Regions from separate parts of the Homo sapiens genome. Here region 1 is linked to region 2. A link means that fine-mapping ties the variant in region 2 to the expression of a gene that starts in the linked region. Tissue or cell type: fibroblasts. Region 2 holds a variant in brackets; the other region holds the start of a gene. All regions are shown on one strand. Distances are between the middles of the regions.

The links. PIP is the estimated chance that this variant, and not a neighbour inherited with it, causes the effect.
Region 1: it holds the start of RPA1, and the variant in region 2 is fine-mapped to the expression of RPA1 in fibroblasts (GTEx, PIP above 0.99).

What each region holds. Positions count from the first base shown.
Region 1 is chr17:1,827,276-1,832,275 of GRCh38, forward strand. It overlaps RPA1 (replication protein A1), which reads left to right and starts at 2,730. Exons shown (of 17, transcript NM_002945.5): 1 at 2,730-2,851. The coding sequence starts at 2,819. It overlaps SMYD4 (SET and MYND domain containing 4), which reads right to left and starts at 2,627. Exons shown (of 11, transcript NM_052928.3): 1 at 2,451-2,627; 2 at 586-731. The coding sequence starts at 719. RefSeq lists a silencer at 2,479-2,998 and an enhancer at 3,626-4,126.
Region 2 is chr17:1,893,075-1,901,394 of GRCh38, forward strand. RPA1 (replication protein A1) reads left to right here. Exons shown (of 17, transcript NM_002945.5): 16 at 1,935-2,021; 17 at 3,997-7,008. The coding sequence ends at 4,101. Among named protein-coding and RNA genes, the nearest start is that of RPA1, 67 kb to the left of the region's middle. The variant G/C (reference allele first, on the strand shown) is at 4,697.

The DNA of each region.
Region 1 (5,000 bases), 67 kb before region 2:
AGGCAGTGGGCTGAGATTGCGCCACTGCACTCTAGCCTGGGTGACAGAGCGAGACAGTCTCAAGAAAAAGAAAAAAAGAAAAAAAAAAAAAGAAAAACAAATACAAACACGGTCCCTTCCCTCATGAAGTTCACAATCTAGCGGCAAAGGCAGGCATTAGTCAAAAGAGCACACACATATATAAAGGAAAATCACACAGCATTGTAAATGTACAAAGAGTGAAGATGGCCCAGCTGAGGCTCAGGGAGAGCTTTCCTGAGGAAAGATCTGGCTAATCCTGCAGGATGACAGAAGTGAATTAGTTCACAGGACACGCTGGGATAGAAACGAACCAGGAAAAGTACTTCAGGCATTTTCCATCAAAAAGAGATGTTACCAGGCCAGACATGGTGGCTCACGCCTGTACTCCCAGCACCTTGGGAGGCCAAGGTGGGAGGATTGCTTGAGCCCAGAAATTTGAGACCAGCCTGGGAAACAAGCAAGACTCAATCTTTATTTAAGAAAAAGACACATTACTTCAGAGCAAATGACAAAATAGAACATTTTTTGGCTCACAATTCCCTTGTTAAAGCTTGATTTACTTACTGAAGAAGTGAAGAGGAGTGAAGAAAGATATCCCTCAAGGTCTCTGCTGTAGAAATTGTGACCTGAACAGACGTCGGGAGTGAAGCCCACTTTTGAAGCAGATATGATTTCCATTCATCCACAGGCAGATCCATGCTGCTTTTGATCTATAAAATGAGTAAGAAAATAGGAATCTTACAAATGCACAATTTTAGAAAATCAAGAGTTCAGCCAGGTACGGTGGCTCACACCTGTAATCCCAGCACTTTGGGAAGCCGAGGTAGGTGGATCACGAGGTCAGGAGATGGAGACCATCCTGGCTAACACAGTGAAACCCCGTCTCTACTAAAACTACAAAAAAATTAGCCAGGTGTGGTGGCGCACACTTGTAGTCCCAGCTACTCGGGAGGCTGAGGCAAGAGAACTGCGTGAACTGGGGAGGCGGAGGTTGCAGTGAGCTGAGATCACGCCATTGCACTCCAGCCTGGGTGACAGAGCAAGACTCTGTCTCGGAAAAAAAAAAAAAAGGAAAATCAAGATTTCATTCAAGGAAGCCTGAAACAATAAAATCAATTCTTGTGGTCTTTTCCTCTAGTTTATATGCTAAGGAAGGATCTATATTTTCTCACAGCAATTCACTCAACATCCTTCCATTCAGAAATATTTACTGAAAGACTACTTTGTCACAGGCACCATGCAGGTGATGGTTATACAAAGACGAAGCAGACTAGATAGCTACCATCTGTGCTCTTAGATCCTCTTTTTTTTTTTTTTGTGAGGCAGAGTCTTGCTCTGTCACCCAGGCTGGAGTGCAGTGGCACCATCTCGGCTCACTGCACCCTCCGCCTCCCAGGTTCAAGCAATTCTCCTGCCTCAGCCTCCGAGTAGCTGGGATTACAGATGCGCGCAACTACGCCCGGCTAATTTTTGTATTTTTAGTAGAGACGGGGTTTCACCATGTTGGCCAGGCTGGTCTCGAACTCCTGACCTCAGATGATCCGCCAGCCTTGGCCTCCCAAAGCGCTGGGATTACAGGCGTGAGCCACCGCGCCCGGCCTGATCCCTCTCTAGTTTCTCTGAGACACATCCCAGATTTTTCTTTCTCACCCACCCCAGCAACTATTCATTTAACAAGGTATTTCCCTCTCTTACATAGTTCAGCGTTCTGATTAAGTCCTCACCATCTCGTCTGGCATTCTTCCTAGAGTGTTATAATTAATGTCCATGCCATTGGCACCACTCCCCACTTTCAATCCAGCCTCCAACACTGAGACAGAAGTCAGTGCTCTGCCCTTAAATTCATCAACGCTACTCCAAGCATACCAGGAAGCCCAGGACAAAACCATCCTTACTTGACCCTTGTCTGACTTTCTAATTCTCAGGTGTCACTTACTCCTCTGCATGCACCCTTGCATACTGAACAACTCATTGCTATCCCCGGCTTGCCAGGCTATTTCAACTCTCCAATGTTTTGGCATAGGCTACTCATGCTTTCCGGACCAACCCTACCCTGGCTTATGGAGTCCACCTGGAAAATTCCCACACGTTCTTCGACTCGGCTCAAATGGCACCTCCTCCGGGACGGCGTCCCTGATTTCCCAGCTGTGATTCCAACACCCTTGGGGCCTGTACCACGTCTACCTGGAGGTGGGGTTACTGACGGCATAAAGTGCCCCCACACACTGTCCTCTTCTCTAAGGACGGGGGCCGGGTCTGATTCCCTTTCGGAGACCCCCCACCCCCACCCCCCACCGCCACGGTGCCAAGCTCAGGGCTTGGAGGCGGGAAGTCAGCCCCGCGTTGCTGGACGAATCGGGTCACTACTGCGACTCTATTTAGCAGCGGAGGTCTCAAGGAACAGCTTTAACCTCCTCTGGGATACCAACCCGTGCACTCGCCAGAGACCGAGGCGAGAACGCCTCGAGAACCGCTCAGACGCGCCCGGAACTGCGCCCTGGTCTCCCTCCCAGCGCCCGCGCAGCTCCTGGCGCGCCCCTTGGCGCCCCGCTCCGCCCCGCACCGCGTCCGGCGTCCCGCGCCAGGCCTCGCTTGGGACCATGGGTGGGTCACGTGGGCCGCGCCTCGGCCAATGCGGCGGCTGCGTAGCGCCCGGGCCCGCCCCTGAGCCGCGCGCACGTCGGGGGCGGGAGCGGTGCGCGCAACTTCTCGGGCCAATAACTGCGCAGCGCGCGGGACCCGGGTGGGGAAGCTGGAGCTGTTGCGGGGTCCGCGGGGAAGTCTTGGCGGTGGAGCCATGGTCGGCCAACTGAGCGAGGGGGCCATTGCGGTGAGGAGGTGCCGGGGGCTGGGCCGGCGGTCCGGGGTGGCTGCGGCCCCGAGCCTCGCGGAGTAGAGAGGGGGAGGGGAGCCCGGGGCGACGGGGGATGAACGCGAGGGGAGGAGATGGCGGGGGGCGGTGGGGACCCGCCGGGCGTCCCTCTAGTGTCATCGCCCCCTCCTCAAAGCATTCTTTCGATCGTCTTTAAAACATGCTCACATTTTTCCTACGTAAGAACAAACTAAATAAACGCTTGCCTTTCTCTGCATCTTCCACCTGCGGACACTTTCTGTCTCTTCTCCTTTCCCCACCCACAGCCAAACTTCTTGTCTGGTTTCAGCCACTTCCTTTCCTCGCCTTTCATCAACTCTTTAACCCACTCCAGTCATCCCTTTGATCGCTGTAGAAAACCCTGGCTGAAGGTACCAGTGGCCTCCAAGTTGCTAAATCCAGCCCTTTTCCGTTTTCAGCTTACCTGAGTTCTCAGCAGCGTTTGCGTTTAAGCCCTGCTTGCTTCAGGTCACACCCTCTTCCTTGGTTTTTAGTGGCTCAGCTTGGCAGGTCTATCCCCGTCTTATTTGTAAGTCCCTCTTTGTAAATTTTTGTTGAATCAAGGCTCCCTCTAGGCCCTCTTGACTCCCGAGGCAATTTCTTTTTTTTTCTCCAGCCTGGGCGACACTCACTGTCGCCCAGGCTGGAGTGCAGAGGCGCGATCTCGGCTCACTGCAACCTCCGTCTCCCGGGTGCAAGTGAGTCTCCTGTCTCAGCCTCCCGAGTAGCTGGGACTACATGTGTGCGCCACCACACTCGGCTACTTTTTGTGTTTTTATTAGAGACTGGGTTTCATCATGTTGGCCAGGCTGATCTCGAACACCAGACCTCAAGTTATCCGCCCGCCTCGGCCTCCCAAAATGCTGGAATTACAGGCATGAACCACCGCGCCTGGCCCCAAGGCAATTCCATTGCCATCTATTAATATATGTCAGTTGCTCACAAATTTCTTTGTACAGAGCCACCTTTACTCTAAAAGACAAACTTCCGTCATCTGTCTGCTTATTCCATGCTTCAGAGGGTTTTAAGTTCAGTATACGTATCCCAAAGCAAATTCTTTATCTTTCTAAGTCTGGGCCTCTTGATCCCTATCTCCACGGATGGCACCATTATCTATTCAGTTCAGTGCTAACCAGAAATTGAGAAATCATTCCTCCTATATTGTCCATTACCTGGGCATCCAGTCCCTCACGAAGTGAAGTGTATTTTGCCTCTGCGTAGATCTATCAAGCCCACTGGCTTCTCTCCATCCATACTGGCACCGTCTTTTTTTTTGCCTGAGCTGCTGACTTCCACTCAGCATACGTTCCTGCCACCATTCCCATCCACAGCATACTCTCAGCCTACCTCTCCAGTCACCCCCACATTTTTTTTTAAATTTAGATTTCTGGTATATTCCATACTCCTACCTTCTTCCATGGGGCCTTTGAACTTTTTTTTTTTTTTTTGAGCTGGAATCTTGCTCTGTTGCCCAGGCTGGAGGGCAGTGGCGCGATCTCGGCTCACTGCAAGCTCTGCCTCCTGGGTTCACGCCATTCTCCTGTCTCAGCCTCCCGAATAGCTGGGACTACAGGTACCCGCCACCACGCCCGGCTAATTTTTTGTATTTTTTAGTAGAGACGGGGTTTCACCGTGTTAGCCAGGATGGTCTCGATCTCCTGACCTTGTGATTCGCCCGCCTCGGCCTCCCAAAGTGTTGGGGTTACAGGCGTGAGCCACTGTGCCCGGCCTTTTTTTTTTTTTTTTTTTTTTTTTTGAGGCAGAGTCTCACTCTTTCTCCCCATACCCCCCCACTACCGCCCCAGGCTGGAGTGCGGTGGCGCAATCTCGGCTCACTGCAACCTCTGCCTTCTGGGTTCAGGCAGTTCTCGTGCCTCTGCCTCCAGAGTAGCTGGGATTACAGGCATGTACCACCACACCTGCGTAATTTTTTGTATTTTTAGTAGACACGGGGGTTTCACCATGTTGCCCAGGCTGGTCTTGAACTCCCAACCTTAGGTGATCCACCCTCCTCGGCCTCCCAAAGTGCTGGGATTACAGAAGTGAGCCACCGCACCCGGCCCTGAACATTTTTTTCCCTCTGCCCACTGCCTGGGTGGTTCTTCAC
Region 2 (8,320 bases):
GTTTGGGCTCTGCCCTGACTCTTTTTTTAAATTGTCCATGAGAGCTCTCAAAATAGTCTCAACAAATCCTGTTACAGAAATAACTAGAATTGACTTTAAAGTGTGATAGTATCTTTTGTCTGTTTTTACCTGGTCTTCAATTTTCGTATCAGATTTTAAGGCCCGAGTAAGCCTTTCAGGATTTTTATGAGCTTATTATATTTGACTGTTTTTTCTGCCGGTGAATGAGGACATATAGAAACTTCCCCGAGGAACCGTGAGATCCTGGAGTTCGCACTCCACGCCCCTCATCTTGGAAGCATAATGGCAGCCGGTGTAATTTTCTCAAGCTTTAACCCATTGTTTTATTTTCATATCTGAAAGTCCATTTGGTTTGGGTTTGGGTTTTGATCAAGTAACCTTTACAGAAAAGAGTTCTGTATAGCAAAGCTGCTTTCACGCCGTGCGTGACTTGCAAAAAACACTAGGTTGGTGTGAACTATTAATTAGTTTTTCTTTTTTTTTGTCAAAGGTCTCAATCAACTCTGTTAATATAGTTATTACACATTTATTTATGCATCTTTATACAAACTATATTCTCTAATTCTTGTCTGTTTACCAGACTTTTTTTTTTTTAATAAACTTAAATTGCATTTGAGGAGTGAGAGAGGGAAAAGGATTGTTTTTAGGCCTTCCCTAGCCTTTGCGCACCTCAACAGTCTTCTCTGCTTGCACACCAAATCAGTAGCTATAAATACAGAGGCTGAAATCACGAATTATATTGAACTTTCTTCTGAGTGTTTTTCCTTTTTTTCTTTTTTTTGAGACAAGGTCTTGCCTCATCACCCATGTTGGAGCGCCGTGGTGTGCGATCATGGCTCACTGCAGCTTCAAACTCTTGGGCTCAGACAGTCCTGCCACCTCAGTCTCCTGAGTAGCTGGGACTACTGGTACACGCCACCATACCTGGCTTAAGTTTTTTTTTTTTTTTTTTTGGTAGAGATGGGGTTTTGCTATGTTCCCCAGGCTATTCTTGAACTCCTGGCCTCAAGCAGTCCTCCCACCTCGGTCTCCCAAAACATTGGGATTATAGTCACGCGCCACCATACCTGACCTCCTAATTTTTTTTTTTTTTGAGAGTCTCGCTCCATAGCCCATGCTGGAGTGCAGTAGTGCAGTCTCAGCTCACTGTAGCCTCCGCCTCTCAGGTCGAAGCAATTCTTCTGCCTCAGCCTCCCTAGTACCTGGGATTACAGGCACCTGCCACTATGCCCAGCTAATTTTTGTGTTTTTAGTAGAGATGGGGTTTCACCGTGTTGGCCAGGCTGGTCTTGAACTCCCAACCTCAAGTGATCCACCCGCTTCCGCTTCCCAAAGCGCTGGGATGACAGGTATGAGCCACCGTGCCCAGCCTTAAAGTCTTAGAAACTTCCTAAGAGCGTTTTTAATTTTTTGTGTCTAGTAAAGCATACATAACCAAATTTGCCTTTGTAACCATTTTTACGTGTACAGTTTAGTGGCGTTAGGTACATTCACATTACTGTGCCCCTGTCACCACCATCCTTTTCCAGTACTTTTTTAAATAGGCAAATTCATAGAGACAGACGACAGCCTTGTGTTTTCCAAGGATGGAGGGAAGGGGAGAATGGAGACACACTGTTCATGGGTGGCGATTTGAAACTCTGCACATTAAGCAATAGCTCCTTTTCCAAAACCCTCTTCTCCCTGGCCCTGACAACTGCCATTCTACCTTCTATGAATGTGATTAGTGTTTTAATTTTCAATAAGATTCTACTTAAAACAGTTTCATGTAATGTTACCTGTAGATGAGTCATTCCTAAGTAATTTGAAACTACCCAGGAGATGCATTTTCAGAAGTCTTTTTAAAAGTCTTATCAGTATTTGCAAGTTGTCCAGTGGTTTCCATGTGTCAAGTTTTATGTTTGTTTTTGCAGAATGAACAGGCATTTGAAGAAGTTTTCCAGAATGCCAACTTCCGATCTTTCATATTCAGAGTCAGGGTCAAAGTGGAGACCTACAACGTAAGTAAGGGCCTGGGCAGCAGGGTTGGTGGTGGGGAGGTGCTGTTTGTCACCTACGGCAGTGTCGTGACACTCCCTGGCAGGGAGTTACTGTACTCACTGCCAGACCCCGGTGCTGACTTTGCCCAACACAGGTGCTGTTATGATCCCCATTTTCAGATGAGGAAGGAGAGAGAGCTTAAGTGTCTTGTCGAAACAATGGCGGGGGGGTGGGGAATACAATATGGATTTTTTTGTTTGTTTATTTTTTTTATTTTTATTTTTTTTCAGTTAAATCCTAGGATTTTTTCGTCTGTGTTCTGACAAAAAAATTATAACGCATGCAGTAGAGTCATATCTTTGACAAATTTAGATTGTAGAAAAGTATATTAAGTATATGAGCCGGGCGTGGTGGTGTGTGCCTGTGGTCCCAGCTACTTGGGAGACTGAGGCAGCAGTTCAAGGCCAGCCTGGGTAACATAGTGAAACCCCGTTTCTAAGTCAGTCAGTCAGTATATGAAACAAAGGCCACGTGTGGTTAAAACTACCTTGAAAATTCCTGAAATTGCCCATAATACCATATAGTATTTATTTATTTATTTATTTATTTATTTATTTATTTATTTATTTGAGACAGAGTCTCTGTCACCCAGGCTGGAGTGCAGTGGGACGATCTTGGCTCACCACAACCTCCGCCTCCCGGGTTCAAGTGATTCTCCTGCCTTAGCCCCTCGAGTAGCTGGGATTACAGGCGCCCGCCACCATGCCCGGCTAATTTTTGTATTTTTAGTAGAGACGGAGTTTTCACCATGTTGGCCAGGCTGGTCTCGAACTCCTGACCTCAGATGATCCACCCGCCTCAGCCTCCCAAAGTGCCAGGATTACAGGCATGAGCCACCGCGCCCAGCTTAGTTATAGTTATAATCAAACAGTATTGAGCATGGTCTGCCAGGTAACTGTTCTACATCCTTTACGTGGAACATCTCACTTGAGCCTAGTAACCCTATATGTAGAAACTGTGGTTACCCTATTTTGCCACTGAAGGAATTACATACAGAGAGACACGGGCATTCAGAGAACAAGTCACTTGCCTAAGTTGTATGCTAGCAAGTGGTCGAGCTAACGTCCAACCCAGGCAGCCTGACTTCAGAGCTTTGCTTTTGATCATGCTTACGAGTATCACGGGATTTAGTACCGACCAAGCACACAGCAGTGTGACAGCCCCGAGCTCGCCTGTGCAGCCTTCCTGGGTATCACTCCGTTCTGCCCGGAAAGGCACCATTCAGGCCGTGAGTGTAAACGTACGAGTGGGCAGGGGGAGTGGTAGAAACGCCCCTGCTGATTGCAGGGTTTACTCACGTATTTACCTTAACGCCCGTTCTTCTGCGACTACTATAAACATTAAATGAGATAGGGGATCAGATGTCACCGTGAAACAATGTCAGGGAGTGGGGTGGGGCTGGGGGGGATTTTTGGGGCCATTCAGCCCCATCGTGTCTGGACAGGGAAGGTGAAGTGAAGAGAGGCTGCCTCCCCAGAGCTGAGACAGGACAGACTCGGTCCTCTCCCTCTGCTGCAGGTGCTCTTCCTTTCACCACTCAGCTTTTCTTGAAATGAAAGTTTGAAAGTTTAGCTTTCAGAACTAGCTGTGTGGCTTTGTGCAAGTCACATGTCCTCTCTGGGCTGTATCCCCTGCAGTAGGGAGAATAAATGAAACTAGAGAAACCCTCTAAAGTCCATCTCACTAGGATTCTAGGCTTCTGGGTGTTTGGGAGCTTGGGTAAAGAATCAGAAGGGCCTGTGCTGGAGAAAGGACCTGTTCACTCGCCCAGCCCCAGACATTCAGGAGGAGGCTGTCACTCACTGGAATGACTGAACTCTGAACCCGTGCGTCTGTTCCCTCCCGCTGGGCTCACTGAAACCACTGAAGCAAAAGGGGTTTCACTGCTCCACACCACACTTTCACTGCTCACAAACTACTTCTCCCTTTTTGAAGGACGAGTCTCGAATTAAGGCCACTGTGATGGACGTGAAGCCCGTGGACTACAGAGAGTATGGCCGAAGGCTGGTCATGAGCATCAGGAGAAGTGCATTGATGTGAGAGGAGCAGTGCCAATCGGGCAGAAGTTTGCAAATAGGCAGAATGGAATCGATTTCCTCCCACCTCCGTGTGACGATCCCATGTTAGCTACACAGTGCAGAGGCTCTTGATGGTGGACTAAGCAATTTCCCCCCTCGTGCGCATCTCAGAACCCATCGGTAGGCAAAGGAAAATACGCTCAGGTGGTTGTGGTGTAGACTGTGTCAGGCCTACGGAGTCAGCCAGTGGCTAGCGCAAGACCAGTCACTCCCTCTGCCTTCAGGCTTCTGTCAATTTCATTATCATCAAGCAGGAATTATGTCGTAAGTCACTGACCCTAACTGCAGACCATGAAGTAAATTATGTAACTAGGTTTTTGCTTCTCCAGTGGTGACCACCCCCCCCCATCCCCGCTCACAACTTGGGTTCTTCTCAGCGGGGCGAGCTGAGAAGCGGTCATGAGCACCTGGGGATTTTAGTAAGTGTGTCTTCCTAGAATTCGAAGGCTCTCTCTTTCTAGAGGTGCTACATAGTTGGTAATGCTTGGAATGGCAATAGGGTAGAATGATTAATCAAAGGCATATCTTCTATATCTGAAGAGTATCCTTCCTTCAGG[G/C]TTTAATAGACTGAGTCAGATGGGTCTGATATTAATCAAAATTGTCTCTTCTGAGGACCGCTGATAAGCATTGACTTGCCGTCCCCTAAGGAAATCCGAGCGGCTACAAAGCGTTTCTTTACTTCTCACTTCAATTAATGCTGCGCTTCGCTTGGTGAGTGCGTACTTTTTCTACCTGTACACATTCCTGCATTCATGTATTTTGTTTTTTTTGACTAAAGCTATGTTACATGGAAAGGATTTTGAAGCCTTTTGTTTCCCTTGCTTTGTTTTAATAAACAGTATATTCTTTGGTTGTGAATCCTACTTTCTTTGAATGCAAAGAGTTCCTATAACTGGAAAGCAATTAATTAGCCTTCATAATAAATGTTCACTTGGGGGGGATGTTAACTCATTATAAACCCGAAGATTAGTCCAAGGCATGGAGATCCTTCTTCCTAGTGTTTGCAGCCCTGAAATGCATCTTTCAAAGCATGAAAACACTAAAAACAAAAAGCCATTTTGCCTGAGGATGCTGATGATCTGGCACTTGGGATTTTATTGATGTTTACGCAGCAGTCTAACACCAACCACGCTTTGAAATGTGTACAGACAGTGAGCTGGTAAGAAAACAGTAATTATGCTAGTGGGCCTTTCAGTCAGCAAAAGCATGCTCGCTCTGTGTGTTCCTAATCATATTAATTATCTATCCGGTGGCTGCAACACACCGCCTGCCATTGGCCGCACATCTCGCCGTCGTACCCCGGCAGTGCGGCGGTCACTCTGCAGCCAGAGGACCTGCTGTTCATCACTGCACATGCCGCCTGCGGAGGCTTTTGGATATGGGGAGTGATGGTGTCCTGTCTGTCTCCCCCCTCGGTGTCTGCCGTTGACATAGGGGCCAGCCAGCCCTAGACGGGATGACTTCCGTTCCTGAGGACAGACACAGAGGGACTCCTGCTCAGCCTCACTAATTGTTTAGACACATTCCTTCCTACCCTTCTCTAGTCTCAGGAGATGGTAACTGGGTCGCATTTCAGTCTCTGACTGAGGCCTCAGCCATTTTTACGGAAGTTCTTTTCTGTCTGACCTTGCTTATAAAGCATCGACGAGAAAATTACAGTCTTCAACCCTCTTCTGGATTGACAAATTGTGGCTGGGAAGTGGCGATCTAGCTTTCAGCCCAGTAACCAGTCTTTCATGCCTACTACTCCCAGCATTCCCTCCTCTCCCCACGTGTCTGTCCACACAGTGAAGAGGCCTGACCAGCCGTGGTACCAGGACAGGACGTGTCCAGGGAACGCTGACACCTGTCCTCGCGCCTTCTCAGTGGCCAGCGTGATGAAACCAGCACGTCTCCGTGGATGTGATTGGGAACCCAGGGGCAGTGCCAGGGGGAGGGCTCCCTCGAGGAGGCTGTTTCTAACAGATTTCCCCACTCAAAGATCAGATCACCAGCAGAGGAGCATCAGAAACTGGCTCCACTGTTGGGCTTTTCAGAGATTTTGGTCCCTGCGGGTTGCCTAAATAGATTCTGGCCCACAGTTTACCTCGAAAGGCTGTTGATGTTGTTCTGTTTCTCCTCTTTCACTTAGAGATCAATGTTGATTTTGCGTACACCATGACATCAGCGTTAGGCAATTAGGAGAAAAAAATCTAATCATTTCGCCTTTATTTCAAGTGGTTCTTGAATTCCCTCCAGTCTCATTGTGAAAGGGGCAGGGAAAAAAATAAAAGGGTAATAATCTGATTTCTGTCCATATTTCCAGTGTTTTATGCTTTCCATTAAAACCTTGCTAATCTCTCGCGTGCTGTTCCTTTTTTGAACTGCAGGGTCAAAAATGTTCCCCTCCCCCACTTCTGTTTCCTGAGTGGGCTGTCTTCAAAAAGTATAAATACTATTGATCGTGGTATTTAATACACTAATGAAACCCATGGTTATTGACTACATAATTAATATACTGTCCAAAAGTGAAGTTTGGCCGCCCAGTATGTAAAGGTTTATATTGACTCATGTTTCTTTGGCAATATGCCGCCCAAGGTTTTATTTATAGAGGATGAAACAGGTTGTTTGGTCTCCTTTTCTTCTTTTCACCTGTTAGAAGGCCACTATTCCCCTAGTAAACTGATTGTTTCCTTGTCTCAAAGGGAAGATTCCCCCCACTCCCCGGCCACCTTTTATGTGGTTTGTTAACTCTTAGTCTTATATCCACTCCGCTGGTAGAGTTCTGGCTTTTATAAACACCTTTGGAAGTCATCGGTTCCTCAAAAAGAGAGCATAGATGTTTAATTTTCACTTATTCAAAAAAACTGGTATTTTTGTTATTAAGACATTAAGTAAATGTTTAAGAAAAAAAAGGATAATTTGGACTATTGACTTTCTTATGCAAGTAATCATATTTGTTTGTTTGTTTGTTTATTTATTTTGAGACGGAGTCTTGCTCTGTCACCCAGGCTGGAGTGCAGTGGCACGATCTCAGCTCACTGCAACCTCCGCCTCCCAGGTTCAAGCGATTCTGCCTCAGCCTCCTGAGTAGCTGGGACTACAGGCATGTGCCACCATGCCTGGCTAATTTTCTGTATTTTTAGTAGAGACGGGGTTTCACCGTGTTAGCCAGGATGGTCTCGAACTCCTGACCTTGTGATCCACCTGCCTCGGCCTCCCAAAGTGCTGGGATTACAGGTGTGAGCCACCGCGCCCGGCCTCCATGTTTATTTTAGGAAAATAATCTACAGTTAAGAAAAACAAAATTGGCCTGGCACAGTGGCTCATGCCTATAATCCCAACACTTTGGGAGGCTGAGGCGGGCAAATCGCTTGAGCCAAGGAGTTCGAGACCAGCCTGGGTAACATAAGGAGACCCCCGTCCCTACAAAAAAATAAAAATTAGCTGGGCGTGGTGGCACACACCTGTAGTCCCAGCTACCTGGGAGGCTGAGGTGGGAGAATCACCTGAGCCGTGGGAGGTCAAGGCTGCAGTGAGCCATGATTGCACCACTGCACCCCAGCCTGGGCGACAGAGCGAGACCCTATCTCAAAAAAAGGGGGAGAAAGGGTGGGTGCGGTGGCTCTCCCTTGTAATCCCAGCACTTTGGGAGGCCAAGGCAGGTGGATCACCTGAGGTTAGGAGTTTGAGACTAGCCTGGCCAACATAGTGAAACCCCACCTCTACTAAAAATACAAAAATTAGCCAGGTGTGGTGGTGGGCTCCTGTAATCCCAGCTACTCGGGCAGCTGAGGCAGGAGAATCACTTGAACCTGGAAGGCAGAGGCTGCAGTGAGCTGAGATCGCACCACTGCACTCTAGCCTGGGCGACTGAGCGAGACTCCATCTCAAAAAGGCAAAAGAAAAATAAAATTACTTAGGATTTCACCAACCAGTAATAAACACTTGTGTAGCTGGCTACTTTTTTCTTCTTTTTTTTTTTTTTTGAGACAGAGTCTTGCTCTGTCGCCAGGCTGGAGTGCGGTGACACGATCTCAGCTCACTGCAACCTCCACCTCCCGGGTTCAAGCAATTCCCCTGCCTTGGCCTCCCAAGTAGCTGGGACTACAGGCATGTAGCTGGACTACAGCCTGGTAGTTGGGACTACAGGCATGTGCCACCGTACCCAGCTAATTTTTTGTATTTTTAGTACAGATGGG